4 linked regions of the Homo sapiens genome follow. The protein of the gene in region 3 interacts with the protein of the main gene of each other region in a biochemical or structural test. Each region holds a gene or a part of one and is shown on either strand. Other genes may lie near its edges.

Region 1 (3,500 bases), on a different chromosome or scaffold from region 3:
CCTCCAGTATTGTGAGATAATAAATCTGTGTTTGAGTCACACAGTCTAAAGCAGCTTGTTATCGCAGCCTGAGAAAACGGGTTGATTGCATTCATGGATTCTTCAATCTATTTTGAGCCTGTCCCTCAGCCTGGGTCCAGAATGTCCCTCAGGGCTAGGTCAGTGATGCTACATGTAGCAGTGTCCCCAGCTTTGACCTGACCAATCCTTTGTTTGTTCCCCCATCTCTCTTAGCTCTGGGAATATTGGCTTGTCCTGCAGCAAATGTGCTCCATTATGTTGGCACAAGGATGCAAGGCTGATTCAAACTTGTATTTATTCAAACCTGCATTCCAACAAGTTCTCAGCCTTGAGATCATTAATATGGACAGAAGTCCCTGGACTAATGGAATTTATATTTTGGGAGCAGAGATAGATAATAAATAAACAAGAAAATGACATAGCACATAAGATGTGCTACACTGCAGAGGAGAATGAGAAGAGAAGAAAAAGTGCTTCTATTTTCAGTAGAATAGTCAAAGACAGCCTCGCAGAGAAGACCTTTAAGCAGAGAATTTAGGAAGGTACAGGGAATAATGCAGGTGGATACTGAAGGGGAGAGAGTTCTAGGCCAGAAGAAAAGCAAGTGCAAAAATCCAGAGATGACAGTGTTCTTGCAAAACAGCAAGGAGATCACTGTACTGGGGCAGAATAAGCAAGGGTTGGGAGAAGCGGAATCTTCGGAAGCAGGAGAGGCTGGATTATGTGGGGCATGGAAGCCACCATGAGTTTGTTGCTCTGATTATGAAAGTGATAAGAAGACGATGTTGACAAGAGTGATATGATGCGAGTTACGTTTTAGCTGAATCCCTTGTCTGCTAAAATCAGAATAACAGATGCAGGGTGACCTGTCAGAATGCCACCATGACAATCCAGACACCAGGTGATGGTGGCTTGAGCCAAGGAAGAAGCCGTGAAGCTGGCCTGAAGTGGTCAGGGAGTGGCCAAGCTGGGAAGGCAGAGCTCACAGGATGTGCTGACACATTGGACATGATTATAAGGAAAAAGAGACAGTGACGACAGAACCAGAAATGTTTTGGCCCGAGCAACTTGGAGGAAGTGACCATCGACTGAAATGGGGAAGAATCAGGTTTCGGGTAGAAGAGAGTAGCAAGGGTGTGGATCTAGATGTGACGTTTGAGAGGTTTATTAAACCTTCAAGAAGAAAGATCAGCCAAGCACGGAGACACAGAATTTATGGACATATAATCTGGAGGCCACAGCACACATATCATGAAGCCAGAAGACCAGATAATTTAAATGAGGGAGAAAGTGTAGGGAAGAAAAATTAGCCCAGCGACTAAGCTCTGAGGATTCAACACATAAGGGTCAGGATGATGAAGAAGAGGCCAGAAAGGAGACTGAGTAGAAGGATCTGATGAAATAGGAGAAAACCCAGGAGAGCATGTTGGCCTTAAAGCCAAGCAGTGAAAACGTCTTCAGGGAAAAGTGCAATCATCACGGCTGACAGAACCGTGGGACTCGCCAGGAAGCTCTTGCTAGAGAGGAGACGACTACCTCAGTAGTATCACAGAGGTGGGCTGGCAATATCCTGACACACTGTCGAATTTCGTGTAATTTCCCATCTTGCTATTCCTGGAGCACTCTTTTCCCATTTAGAAATCCTCAGAAACCGCCAGGCACGGAGGCTCACACCTGTAATCCCAGCACTTGGGGAGGCCGAGGCAGGCAGATCACGAGGTCAGGAGATGGAGACCATCCTGGCTAACACAGTGAAACCCCAACTCTACTAAAAATACAAAAAATTAGCCGGGTGTGGTGGCAGGCGCCTGTGGTCCCAGCTACTTGGGAGGCCGAGGCAGGAGAATGGCGTGAACCCGGGAGGCGGAGCTTGCAGTGAGCCGAGATCATGCCACTGCACTCCAGCCTGGGCGACAGAGCAAGACTCTGTCTCAAGGAAAAAAAAAATAAATCCTCAGAAACAAAACAACAAGATCCCCACTATGTAAAGACCCTTCCAATTTGGATGACCCATAGACGAGTTCTACGAAGTTCGGTTCCTTGTGTAGAACAGAATCCTCCTTGGCCATGATCGCATGAGGGCTTGTGTTTCTTTGGGGAATGTGGGTGAAATCCAGCTTAGCCTTGGTGATTCTAACCATCTCAGTGAAGTGGAATGTGTAGTTTAACCCCATATTCTCTATTTTAAAATATCCACCACAACTGACCCAGGCCCAACCTAATCTTGAGTGGCTGCAAATGAAGCGAGAGCCATCCTGGATTTTGATAACAGTCAACGTTTCCTGAGAACTCAGAGTCCCACCACGGGCATCTCTGCAGAGCACACTCACCCCAGGTTCTGCAGGAGGCAGCTCTGCTGTTTCAGCACTTCACAGAACATCATGACCCCCAGGTCGCCCAGGTCATTGTTGCCCAGGCTCAGCTTTCGCAGGCTCTGGCTGGAGGTCAGAAGTGTGGAAAGATCCCAGCAGCAGTGTGACGTGAGGTTGCAGTTGTCTAATCTGCAAAAAGGGGGTGATTTAAAGAAAATGTCCCCTTAACCATCCCCCTAGCTCCCCAAGATTTTAGCATCTTAGCCTGTCTTGTTTCAGGTGGAAAAAAAAAAAGCACAGGAGCACAGGACTAACTAGCTTCAAGCAGCCTTGTATGCTGGTAATTATTCTTCTCTCTCTTTTTCAAATCCACTGCATTGCACAGATCAAATTAGTAACAGTGGTTTGTTCATTGATTTACCAAATTCTGTGCCTTTCCCTACATTTCCATAAAATGTAAGTGTCATACTGCCCTCCTTGTTTTGTGGTACAGAAAACTGTGATGGTAAGGACTCAAGTTCCTACATCTATATCATCTGGAAGGACTCCTCCCAGTCCCATGATCCTGTAACAAGGCAAACACTAAGAAGACACCTCACTTCTAAGATACAGATTATCTTGTGGCCACTCTGCCTAAACGTCCCTCCACCCTTGGCCACCATGTGTTCTCATTGCTGTAATAAACCAAAGGACTTACTCCAACACCTGAAGCTTGCAGTCGGGGTGCAAGAGTCCCTCACAGAGTAGTTTGATCCCCTTGTCTCCGAGAGTGTTGCCTCGCAGGTAAAGGTGCGTGAGATTCTGATTAGTGCTGAGTACCGAGGACAAAGCTGAACAACAGACTGACGTAAGGCCAGAATTCACCAACCTGTAGAAGGACAGGGAGAAGAGTCCTCAGTACCCAGCTGTTCCCCAACATTGTGCAGCTGCTTTGACTCAGTGCCTCGTCCTCTCTCAGCAGCTGCAGCCTTCAGCTCAGAGAGCAGGAGCCAGCATCTCAGATATGATCTGGGGAGAGCAAGACCTGCTGTCTCTGGCTGTCACAGGAGACACAAATGATGTCTCAGCAGATGCTTTGCTGTATGAGTCCGACAGAAAGAGCCAAGGCAAACTGAGCCAGTTACCCCATACTCCTCCTCCTCCTCACACAGCTTTCCTCCGGCCAGG
Region 2 (3,500 bases), 7.7 Mb from region 3:
TCACTTGAGCCCAGGAGTTCAAGGCCAGCCGGGGCAACACGGCGAAGCTCCATCTCTACAAAAAATACAAAACTTAGCCAGGCATGGTGGTGCACACCTGTGGTCTCCAGCTACTCGAGAGGCTGAGGTGGGAGGATCACCTGAGCCCAAGGAGGTCAAGGCTGCCGTGAGCCATAATTGCACCACTGCACTCCAACCTGGGCAACAAAGTGAGACCCTGTCTCAAAAAAAGAGAAAAAAGATACATTATAGCCAAATGCACTGTGTGACCCTGGACCCATAAAAGATACTAGCAGGACAAAATTTGAAGATGGTCTGTAGGTTAGATAATAGTGTTATATCAATGTTAGTTTCCTGATTTTGATCACTGTATCAAATAATTGTGACATTGGTTATGTAAGAGAATGCCCTTATTTTTAGAAAATATACACATTTTAGAATGTGTAGGCTTAGATTATTCATTTTTTAAAATGAAATGATATTTAGAGACAAAGGGGTATAAATGTTTGTAACCAACAAACATTTTACTTTTTAAAATTTACATTTTTAATTTTAAACAGAGAGAATAAACGAATGATAAAGTTAAGTGTGCTAAAAAGTTAACAGTCAGGAAAGCTGGGTAAAGAAAATTCCACAGACTGCTTTTGCAAATTTGAGGGTTTTTTTTTTTTTTTCACTACTGTAGTTGGAAGTTAACAAAAAAGTCTACCTCCAAGGAACTGGCAGAGTGTGAGAACTGTTTATAAAAACTTGAGAATTTTCTCAATCTTGCTTCGTTTGCACTTTCCCCTGGATTCCCACATCTGATTTTATATTCTTCCTTCCTTGTGCTGTTTCTTCTCTTCCTTCTCCACAGCTCTTCACCCATCATTCCTTTTTTTCACTGATCCTTCTTTAGCAAATTCTTTCACTCCCAAAGGTCCTGAACACTTCATAATTTTAGAAATGACTGTATTTTAGAATAACCAATTATCCTGAATGAGTTTTGTTCTTTTGCTTCATTTATAAATCAGCTGGGTTTAATGTTATGTCTGCCATTTAAACTTTCTACTAAATTAAGTACTTCTTACTTTACCACAATCAGCCAGCAAGCCAGTTCCCAGATTGATTCAAACCACACAACGCAGAAAACTATATATTGCAGGATTTCATTTTTTAAAATAAATAATTGAAGCCTACACATTTTTAAAACCCAGAGGTCACTGGGCTCAGTGGCTCACACTTGTAATCCCAGCACTTTGGAAACCCAAAGTGGGAGGGTTGTTTGAGCCCAGGAGTTCAAGACTAGCCTGGGCAACACAGTGAGACCTTGTCTCTACAAAATAAAGATAAAAAAATTAGCCGGGCATGGAGCCACAAATTTGTAGTCCTAACTACTCAGAGAGGCTGAGGCAGAAGCACTGCTTGAGCCTAGGAATTCGAGACTAGCCTGGGCAACATGGCGAAACTGTGACACTACAAAAAATGCGAAAATTAGCTAGGTGTGGTGGCGCATGCCTATAGTCCCAGCTACTTGGGAGGCTGAGGTGGGAGGATCGCTTAAGCCTGGGAGATTGAGGCTGCAGTGAGCCATGATTACACCACTGCACTCCAGCCTGGGCAACAGAGAGAGACCTCTCTCTCAAAAAAAAAAAAAAAAAAAGACATCCCTGAACATGCTCCAACTTGTAGCAACTATGTTACATTCTCTTTGTATTTACTAGGAGATCCTTCTCTTTGGGCAACTTTTTGCCTAACTATTCTTGAGCCAAATTAAGTATAATGGAAGACAGATATAAAATAAAGTAACCGTCTAAATATTTCATATCAGTTAATACAAATTCAGATTTAAAGCACTGAGGTTCAAATTTTGACCTTACATTTCTATACATACACTGTTTCTGAAGATGTCTATGTACAATAAAACAATCCCGTATGTCTGTGCGGACTGAAAACCTACTAAACTAATTAGCAAGTACCTTCCTTTGGCCAACCAAACTTTGATAACGTGGCTGCTGTTCTGCTAGGCTAGAAATCTTTCAAATACTGGTGGCAGGTCCCATTCTGAAAAGAGCTCAGCATTTGGAGAAGCTGAGTTCTCTGGAAGGCAACGAGCAGAGTAATGCAGGCACTCGCCACTGATGTTTAGACACCACCCCATCTGCAGCATGGCAATGGGGTTGAGGGGTTGGGGAGAGAAGCACAGCCCCCAAAAGAGCAGCTCTCCTCATTTCCTTCATCTCAGCATATTCCTAATTAACTCAGCTTTGTGCCTGTTATGAATAGCTTCAGATGGAAAGGCTCCAATTCCACATTCCTCTTCATTATGCACAGCTTATTAAAATTGAAATTTCACTGTTTCCAACTCGACCAAATTAGTGGTTCAAACTGCCGTGCGCTATTAAGAGTGAGGCATTCGTTTTAAAGGATGGAATCAGGATAAACATGGCCTGGATCAAGGCTGGAACAGGCTAGAAACTTCAAGGCTTTGAGTTTTACGCTTGCCACATGAGCCTGAGAACATCAGAACCTTTCTGCATGGCAGTTCTTCAATCTGGCAGGCCAGGCTGATAGGATGGTGCCCTTCCCTAAGCTCCTCTGCAGTGAAAAATCAGAGCTGAGAAGTGGAGAATAATTGACAGTTTCCAGAGGCCCTTTTAGTTGGGAGTTTGTTTCCCATTCCGAAATCAAACAGTTGTCTATCAGAGCCTGTCCTCCTGCTCAAAAGGAGAGCGTATCCAAGAGGCCTAGCAAGAGAATGAGAATCCGCATGCCAGCCCTCAGGCTGGTACCTGCTCTTCTTCAATCCTGCGCTGTAGTGTTTCAATATAATGCTGGACCGCCATATAGATAAATCGGTACTGTGCTTCTGTCTGGACCATCCCTGACCTCTGAGACCGCACCATCTGGATGGTTTTGGGAACGTCAATATCGCAGTCAACACCTACGAAGGAAACATCATGAAGAATAAAGAGAAACTGCAGAGCCAGGATGAAGTTGTTTAATGCACAACTTTTAGTGGACTCAGAGACAATGCTAATTTAGTCTTTGCTGTTTTAACTGAGCATGTTGCAATGGCTACAGTGTTGAACTTCTGACCAATACCAATGATCCCAGAAGACTACATAAATAACGAAGTGGCAGAAGTCAGGATTCCCTCACTTGCCAACAAATCACCCCATACTGTAAACAAGGTCAGGTGGCTGGATAGAGACCACCACTGTGTATGCAACAAAAGGCCATGGCAGTGGGTTCTGCAGCTCCTAGACTTCATTTTATGCCAAAAGCTCAAATAGTGTCACTTCTGTTCTCAGGCAGACACACTGAAGTCTTCAGCCCAGATTTTTGTGAAAGAATTTTCCCATTCAACCTCTCTTCCCCAGACTGTTTTCGTGAGCACTTTCCTTCCATAAACTAAAAACAGAAACTGTCGCTTCTTGCCCACCAGATGACCCACCTTTCTCTCTGATGATGTCAATAAGAATATCAATCACAATGAACGTCCCTGTCCGGCCAATTCC
Region 3 (3,802 bases):
CTCCTGATCACAGATCGGATCTAGGGGGAGGGGGAGGGGAGGCTGTCACCGTCCCACTCCCAGCTTGCACAACGCTGCTCAGGCCACACTCAGATGCCTCAGGAGAGGGAGCACAAAAGAAAACCACCAAAGAACCAAGCGGAGGTGGGTGGAGGCACGGGGAGGGGGCAGATTGGACCGGTGGAGGTGGGTAGAGGCAAGGGGAGGGGGCAGATCGGACTGGCTCCAGAAGCACAGGCTGCGAGCGAGACCTCTGACCCAGCATTCACCTCTAAGTTGGCCACTGACCTTGGGCAAGACACTTAATTGCCATGGGCCTCAGCTTCCCCTTCCTTAAAATGGAACCACAAGATTTTCTTGGCTTACCGCACAGGGTTTGCACAAGAATTATTCCAGAGGATGTAAGTGCATGCCCTTGACAAGGCATACGGCTTTTTCTTTTTTCTTTTTTTTAATTTATAATAGAAAAAGTGTTTCCTTCCAGGAACTTTTTTTTGGGGGGGGACAGAGTCTCGCTCTGTCGCCCAGGCTGGAATGCAGTGGCGCGATCTGGTCTCACTGCAACCTCCGCCTCCTGGGTTCAAGAGATTCTCCTGCCTCAGCCTCCTGAGTAGCTGGGATTAAAGGCATGCACCACCACGCCTGGCTAATTTTTGTTGTTGTTGTTTTTTGTTTTTTTTTTTAGTAGAGATGGGGTTTCATCATGTTGGTTCGGCTGGTCTCAAACTCCTGACCTCGTGATCTGCCTGCCTCGGCCTCCCAAAGTGCTGGGAATACAGGTGTGAGCCACCGTGCTCAGCTAGCCAGGAACTTTTTTAACTAGTTTTTTTTTTCTTATTTATATTATTATGCTAATATTATATTATGCTATTATACTTGTTGGTAGTGTTTTGGGGGTTTTTGGTTGTTTCGTTTTGTTTTCCAAAGAGGCATAAAGCTTGGGGGATTTTTTTTTTTTTTTTTTTTTGAGACAGTGTCTTGATCTGTTGCTCAGGCTGAATGCAGTGGTGCGATCACAACTCACTGCAGCCTCAAACTCCTGGGCTAAAGCCATCCTCCTGCTTTAGCCTCCCCAGCAGCTGGGACTATAGGCATGTGCAACCACGCCCAGCTAATCTTTAATTTTTTGTAGAGACAGGGTTTCACTGTGTTGCCTAGGCTGGTCTCAAACTCCTGGGCTCAAGCGATCCTCTTGCCTCAGCCTCCCAAAGTGCTAGGATTACAGGTATAAGCTACTGTGCCAGGGTGAGGCATAAAGTTTTTTGTTGTTGTTGTTGTTTTGTTTTTGTTTTTTGAGACCAAGTTTCACTCTTGTTGCCCAGGCTGGAGTGCAATGGTATGATCTTGGCTCACCGCAACCTCTGCGTCCTGGGTTCAAGTGATTCTCCTGCCTCAGCCTCCTGAGTAGCTGGGATTACAGGCATGCGCCACCATGCCCAGCTAATCTTTTTGTATCTTTAGTAGAGATGGGGTTTCTCCATGTTGGTCAGGCTGGCCTCGAACTCCCAACCTCAGGTGATCCGCCCGCCTCGGCCTCCCAAAGTGCTGGGATTACAGGCGTGAGCCACCACACCTGGCCCGGCATAAAGTTTTAATTTAAGCAAAAAGCAAGTAATAAAAGTACTGTCAGCCACGGCCTATTGAGGGACCACATGCTGTGTTCTAAACACTTTCCAGGAATTATCTCATTTAGGTCTCCGGACAATCTTGATGGAAATTCTCCCCACTTTACAGATGAGAAAACTGAGGCTGAGGGAGGGGGTTGCCCAAGGTCACAGAGGTAGCAAGTGTTAGACATGTGGTTTGTATCTAGGTCTATCTGGTTCCAAAGTCCATGCTGCTAACCATTTCACCACATCAGAATGTCAAGGACAGCTCATCTGAAAGGAAAAAGCCTCAACAAGGCAAGAGGTGGGTTGACGCTATGAGAAATGCTGGGTCCACAGAGCCCACTGCCAAGTGCTGACTGTCAGGTCCGGCCACAGTGTCTCAGCATTTTCTGCCCAAGCAGACATGCGCAGAGTGGGAGGCTGCATGCAGTTAGCGAGGAGCGGCCCACACTCAGACCCGCCAATGGCCATGCCCAGCAGCCATGCGAGCTGGTGCCTGCCTGGCCAGAGGTGGAAATCCTCTCCGTGGTGCTGGGTGTGCCCATGGCCATGGCACATGGAAGCTCTGGCTGTTCCTTCCCGTCCTGGGTGGCAGCTTCCGTGGTGCCCTCTGGGCTCCTTGGGGTTTCAGGTCCCTGGGTTGGCCTGGCCACACTTCCCCTCTCGGTCATCTTTGCACCTAGCTGCTCCGTGGTAACTGAGGCAGGGGAGCTGCTTCCCAGCCTCCCTGGCTCTGGCCTTGGCCTCTCCTGCTGTAGGCCATGTTCCTCCGTGAGAGTCCAGGTATCTGGGAAGATGGCCTGCCGGTCCACTGCCACTACAGCTGGCTCTGTTACTTCTTGGAAGCTTCGAGCAGCTCCAGAGGGGGGCATTCTCTCAGGCCCGAATACCTCCGAAGCCCATGGCTGCTCCCATGTGGCAGCCAAGGCCTCCTCTGGGCACGAAGGGCTGGCTGGTGGCCCCTGGGGCTCCCCAGGCTCTTGGAGAGCTGTGCTCCCAGCACAGGGTACAGTGTGGCAGCGGGGAGCCCCAGAGAGCTCACTTGTGATGGTCGGCAGGTGCCTCCAATCTCGACCCTGACTCTCTGTGCCCACTGCCCACAGAGAACCCTCCACAGAGGGAGACCTTGAGTTGAAGGTGTCAGGCATCACCCCAAGACCAGCCAAATCAAGCCAGCTGGGGGCTACAGGAGGTAGAAGGCCTCGTCCACTCTGCTCAGTACAAGGGAACTCCGGAGTGTGGCCCTGGCCTCGAGGGGAGGGTATAGTGGTGGGTGGCAGAAATACAGATGGCATGGGAGGAGGAGAAGGAGGAAGGGAGCAGTATGAGGACGGAGCAGAGCTGGACAGCCCCGGGGCACTCAGAGCCACAGTGGAGGAGCTGGTCTGGAGAAGAGAGAAATGCAGAGGGGAGAGGAGAGAGAGAGATGAGGGGAGTGAGGACGGCTGCACCTTGCAGGCGGTGGGCTCGGCCTTAGGGCTGACCAAGGTGGCTGCAAAGCTGACGCACAGGACTGACCCTTGAAGGAGACCCAGACCCCAAAAAAGCTTCCCTGGGCTTTGCGTGCTTAGCCCTCACCAAACCCAAGCAAGAGAAAGCAGCCACCAAGCCGTGCCTGTGGAGCCACCCAGGGAGGGTATGAGAAAGAAAAGACCACGGTAAGGTGGACAAATGGGGAGCCAGGTGGCTACGGAAGACAGCCCCAGGCACAAATGGAGGGAGAGCCAGCCCCAGGGGCTGCTGAACCCGCCTCGGACACTGGCCCAACTCGGCCATGTCCCTCCGGACAATCCCAGCTTTCCTACACCCCAAGTCCTCTACGTCTTCCACATCCTTGCTCCAGGGATCTGACTAAAACCACTGCTGCTTCTCCTGGCATCAGGACACAGGCTGTCTGAGAAAACGGCAGCCTTAAAAGCACCGGGGCACAGCTCCCTCAGGCCAGGCCCTGAATCCAACTTACTTGCTTCTGACCATGGCTGCTCAGAACCACTGGCCTGGAGCTGGAACTATAGCACGCAAGGGTCACAGGGCCAGGCTCAACCCTCCACCCCAGCCACACTCCTGTCTCCCACCATGAAACCTCAGCTGAAGGGAGGCTAGGAGACACCATCAGGGCCAAGGGTGCAGGGACCGTTCACTCCCCTCTCATATTCCCTAGGTCATGCCCCAAAGGTCTCCAGCTGACCCAC
Region 4 (3,500 bases), on a different chromosome or scaffold from region 3:
AAAAGTTAGAAGAAAGGAAGCTCTTCTTCCAATCAAATGTCTGCTCCATGCAAAGGTAAGTCAAAGCAGACTGACGGCTATCTACTCATTTTTTGAGCCACAGGGGAGGGGATATGCATGAGGAGGAGCTGATAAGAGAGGAGAAGACTGAAGACTTCCTATTCTTTTTCCCTCTAAATGCAGGAACATATGTAAGGCTTTGAAATTACAGAATTCTTGGCCCTAGCTCCTAATCCCTCATAGACCTGGCAAAAGGGTACTAATGATGGGGATAAAGGGTAGGGAGAAAGAAGTGAACAATAAACCCTGTTCTTGTAAATCAAACCAGCTTTACTTCTCCAACGGTTCATTTGCACTACTAAATCCCCAGAACAGCTTTAACTATGAAATGTCTTTTTTTTGAATCACAGGGGATTAAGCAGACAGTAAGAGCAGGTGGATTACAAGCTTCAACTTTCATACAGAAAAAAAGACAAGCTTGGACAAGAAAGCAAGACCCCATCTTTACAAAAAATAATAAAAAAAAAATTAGCTGGGCATGATGGCATACACCTTAGTTCTAGCTACTTGGTAGGCTGAGGTGGGAGGACCACTTGAGCCCAGGAGATTGAGGCTGCAGTCATCTGTGATCATGCACGACACTCCAGCCTGTGCTACAGAGTGAGAGCTTGTCTCAAAAAGAAAAAGAAAAAAGAAAAGAAAAGGAGACAATCTGGACATTGAGAAAAATTTGACAAAGATGCCAATGGCAAAAAATTCAAAGGCATCAATGCTTTTCTAAATATTATTATTTTCTCCTTTTCTTGTTCACACATCCTTTTTTTATTCCATATTTAGATGCAGAAATGAAAAAGTATTGTATGCCATCTCTCTATTTAGTATATTTGCCTTTCCAGACACCTAATATAAAAAGAAAAGGTATAATTAGGATTTAATGTGATTTCAGTGGATGTGATTAATGGCCAGGCAAGACTCCGATCACAGCAAGGATGAGAGCTTTTCACAGGCAAGAGTGACCACAGCAAGGACGAGAGCCTGCCTTTAGACTATTCCGCTTTGCAGCACCAAAAAGAGTAAAGTAACTGGTGAAGACTACTCGTAGAAACAGAATGTGGGCTTAACAGGAACAATAACTTAGAAAGCCTGTTATAGTCAGAAAGAAATGAACCGTGGCTTCTAATTTCTCCTTGATATGGTTTCATAGGAGAAAGGGCAAAAGCTAGAAATGAAGGCAGTAAACTGTTTAAAAAGATTATAAACCATGATAGCTTTCTTGCTTCTTTCCAACATAATCAAAGTAAAGTGGCCAAAGTCATAATTTAAAACTTTCTTTCCTTGGGAGGCCAAGGTGGGCGGATCATGAGGTCAGGAGTTTGAGACCAGCCTGGCCAATGTGGTGAAATCTCATCTCTACTAAAAATACAAAAAAGGCCCGGCACGGTGGCTTACGCCTGTAATCCCAGTACTTTGGGGGGCCGAGGCAGGTGGATCACCTGAGGTCAGGAGTTCAATACCAATCTGACCAACATGGTGAAACCCCATCTCTACTAAATACAAAAAATTAGCCGTGCATGGTGGTGCATGCCTGTAGTCCCAGCTACTTGGGAGGCAAAGGCAGGAGAATCGCTTGAACCTGGGAAGCAGAGGTTGCAGTGAGCCGAGATTGTGCCATTGCACTCCAGCCTGGGCAACAAGAGCGAAACTCTGTCTCAAAAACAAAAACAACAACAAACAAACAAAATAAGCGGGGTGTGGTAGAGCACGCTCCTGTATTCCAAGTTACTCAAGAGTCTGAGGCAGGAGAATTGCTTGAACCTGGGAGGCGGAGGTTGCAGTGAGCTGAGATCATGCCACTGCACTCCAGCCTGGGCGACAGAGTGAGACTCTGTCTAAAAAAAAAAAAACCAAAAACTAAAACAGAAAACTTTCTTTCCATATTGTTCTGTCTATGGGCTATATAACACCCTGCAATTTAAGATTTTAGAATGGGGCAAGATTGTTCTTTCATTATGATGGATGTGTTAACATAATACCATCCATCCCCTCTCTAGTTACTTATAATAGTCCTTATTGATTAATGGCCAACAAATTAATTGTAAATTATTGAAACATTAAATGTCAGAAATAAAAATTTCCCAAATTAACATGATTTTTGTAGGATTTGGCATTCTGTGATTTAAAAAATTCATTTCTAATTATATTCAAAATAGATAAGGCATGATTTTCTTTTCTGAAAATAATTAAGATGAAATTTATAACTTGCAATATTTACTACATGAATATAATAATTGACAATCAAGCTCCAAATCTACAATAAAGCTATAAAAATGACAGTTCTTAAGAATCTCTATAGGGAAAACCTAAAATCATTTTCCAAAAAAATGTGTTTCAATAAAAGTTTCCACTTTTCCTTTTTAGGTTATTTTAATTTCCTCGAAAAGAAAACTAGCCAGTGTTCAGTTGCATTATGTAGCTTTCCACAACACTCTACACTAACAAAGAGGGCAGTCTCTTACGTCCATAAGAGCAGCATTGATGTAGTTACTGCTCTCCCCATCAATTGTAATTAAAAAAGGCAGACATCTGTCAGGTGGCAGCATGTCCATGAAACGGTTCTTGTCATGGTTCCTTGGCAGGCACGCTATACTGCAGTCTTCAGCTTGTAGTCGAGGGGTGACTGAATTCAGAGTCTAAAAAGAAAAGAGAACCCAGGTTAAAAGACAGTGTGACCCATTTAACAGTATAACACAGATCCATCAGGAATTTAGAAGGCCAAGTAGAAAGTGAAGGATTTGTGCGAGGCAATGGCATTTGCTACTATGACAGGCTGATAGACCTTGTAGTTAAAGCTAATGAAGCCTGAGAAGTGACAAAGAAACAAGACACACATTGTTCAGGGCTCCTCTTCTTAAAAGGAAAAGGTACGCTAAACAACACTGCTACCTGCAAAATGCATTGCCTTAACCAAAGAAAATGCAATCGGGCAGTCCATTATGATAATGACCCTTCATCACACTGGGAAACGGTATCATTTGTAGTAACATCTGGGCTTGCCATATTTGAAGATAAGCTATGGCATGTTGGAAAGAGCACTGGATCAACAATCAAAGAATTTGGTCTCTGCCCTTGATTTTATTTTCACCCACCTTCAGGGGTGTTTTAAGGGCAGTGAAAACATTTAGGGCTATTTTGAAATAACATGTACTACAAACTTCATTTATTATTATTATTACTATTATTATTTTTGAGACAGGGTCTTACTCTGTTGCCCAGGTTGGAGTGCAGTGGCAATATCTTGGCTCACCACAGCCTTCCAGGGTTAAGCAAACTTCCAGGGTCAAGCAATCCTCCCATCTCAACCTCCTGAGTAGCTGGGACTACAGGCATGCACCACCACACCCGGCTATTTTTTATATTTTTTGTAGAGATGAGGTTTTGCCATGTTGGCCAGGCTGGTCTTGAACTGCTGACCTCAAGATCTGCCTGCCTTGGCATCCCAA

The links. The genes of interacting proteins can lie anywhere in the genome.
Region 1: the proteins of PXN (region 3) and NLRP3 form a complex in vitro, tested with the Homo sapiens proteins (one study listed by BioGRID).
Region 2: of the proteins of PXN (region 3) and PTPN11, one has a biochemical effect on the other in vitro, tested with the Homo sapiens proteins (one study listed by IntAct).
Region 4: of the proteins of PXN (region 3) and PTPRK, one has a biochemical effect on the other in vitro, tested with the Homo sapiens proteins (one large-scale study listed by IntAct).

What each region holds. Positions count from the first base shown.
Region 1 is NC_000001.11:247,443,673-247,447,172, reverse strand, and holds part of NLRP3 (NACHT, LRR and PYD domains-containing protein 3), read right to left. Parts: intron 3,202-3,500; coding exon 3,031-3,201; intron 2,523-3,030; coding exon 2,352-2,522; intron 1-2,351. UniProt on the Homo sapiens protein: Sensor component of the NLRP3 inflammasome, which mediates inflammasome activation in response to defects in membrane integrity, leading to secretion of inflammatory cytokines IL1B and IL18 and pyroptosis.
Region 2 is NC_000012.12:112,488,447-112,491,946, reverse strand, and holds part of PTPN11 (tyrosine-protein phosphatase non-receptor type 11), read right to left. Parts: coding exon 3,437-3,500; intron 2,924-3,436; coding exon 2,772-2,923; intron 2,764-2,771; exon of another isoform or gene 1,959-2,763; intron 930-1,958; exon of another isoform or gene 523-929; intron 1-522. UniProt on the Homo sapiens protein: Acts downstream of various receptor and cytoplasmic protein tyrosine kinases to participate in the signal transduction from the cell surface to the nucleus. Positively regulates MAPK signal transduction pathway. Dephosphorylates GAB1, ARHGAP35 and EGFR.
Region 3 is NC_000012.12:120,217,097-120,220,898, forward strand, and holds part of PXN (paxillin), read right to left. Parts: exon of another isoform or gene 2,996-3,802; coding exon 2,111-2,995; intron 21-2,110; coding exon 1-20. UniProt on the Homo sapiens protein: Cytoskeletal protein involved in actin-membrane attachment at sites of cell adhesion to the extracellular matrix (focal adhesion). Recruits other proteins such as TRIM15 to focal adhesion.
Region 4 is NC_000006.12:127,978,600-127,982,099, forward strand, and holds part of PTPRK (receptor-type tyrosine-protein phosphatase kappa isoform b precursor), read right to left. Parts: intron 2,691-3,500; coding exon 2,517-2,690; intron 1-2,516. UniProt on the Homo sapiens protein: Regulation of processes involving cell contact and adhesion such as growth control, tumor invasion, and metastasis. Negative regulator of EGFR signaling pathway. Forms complexes with beta-catenin and gamma-catenin/plakoglobin.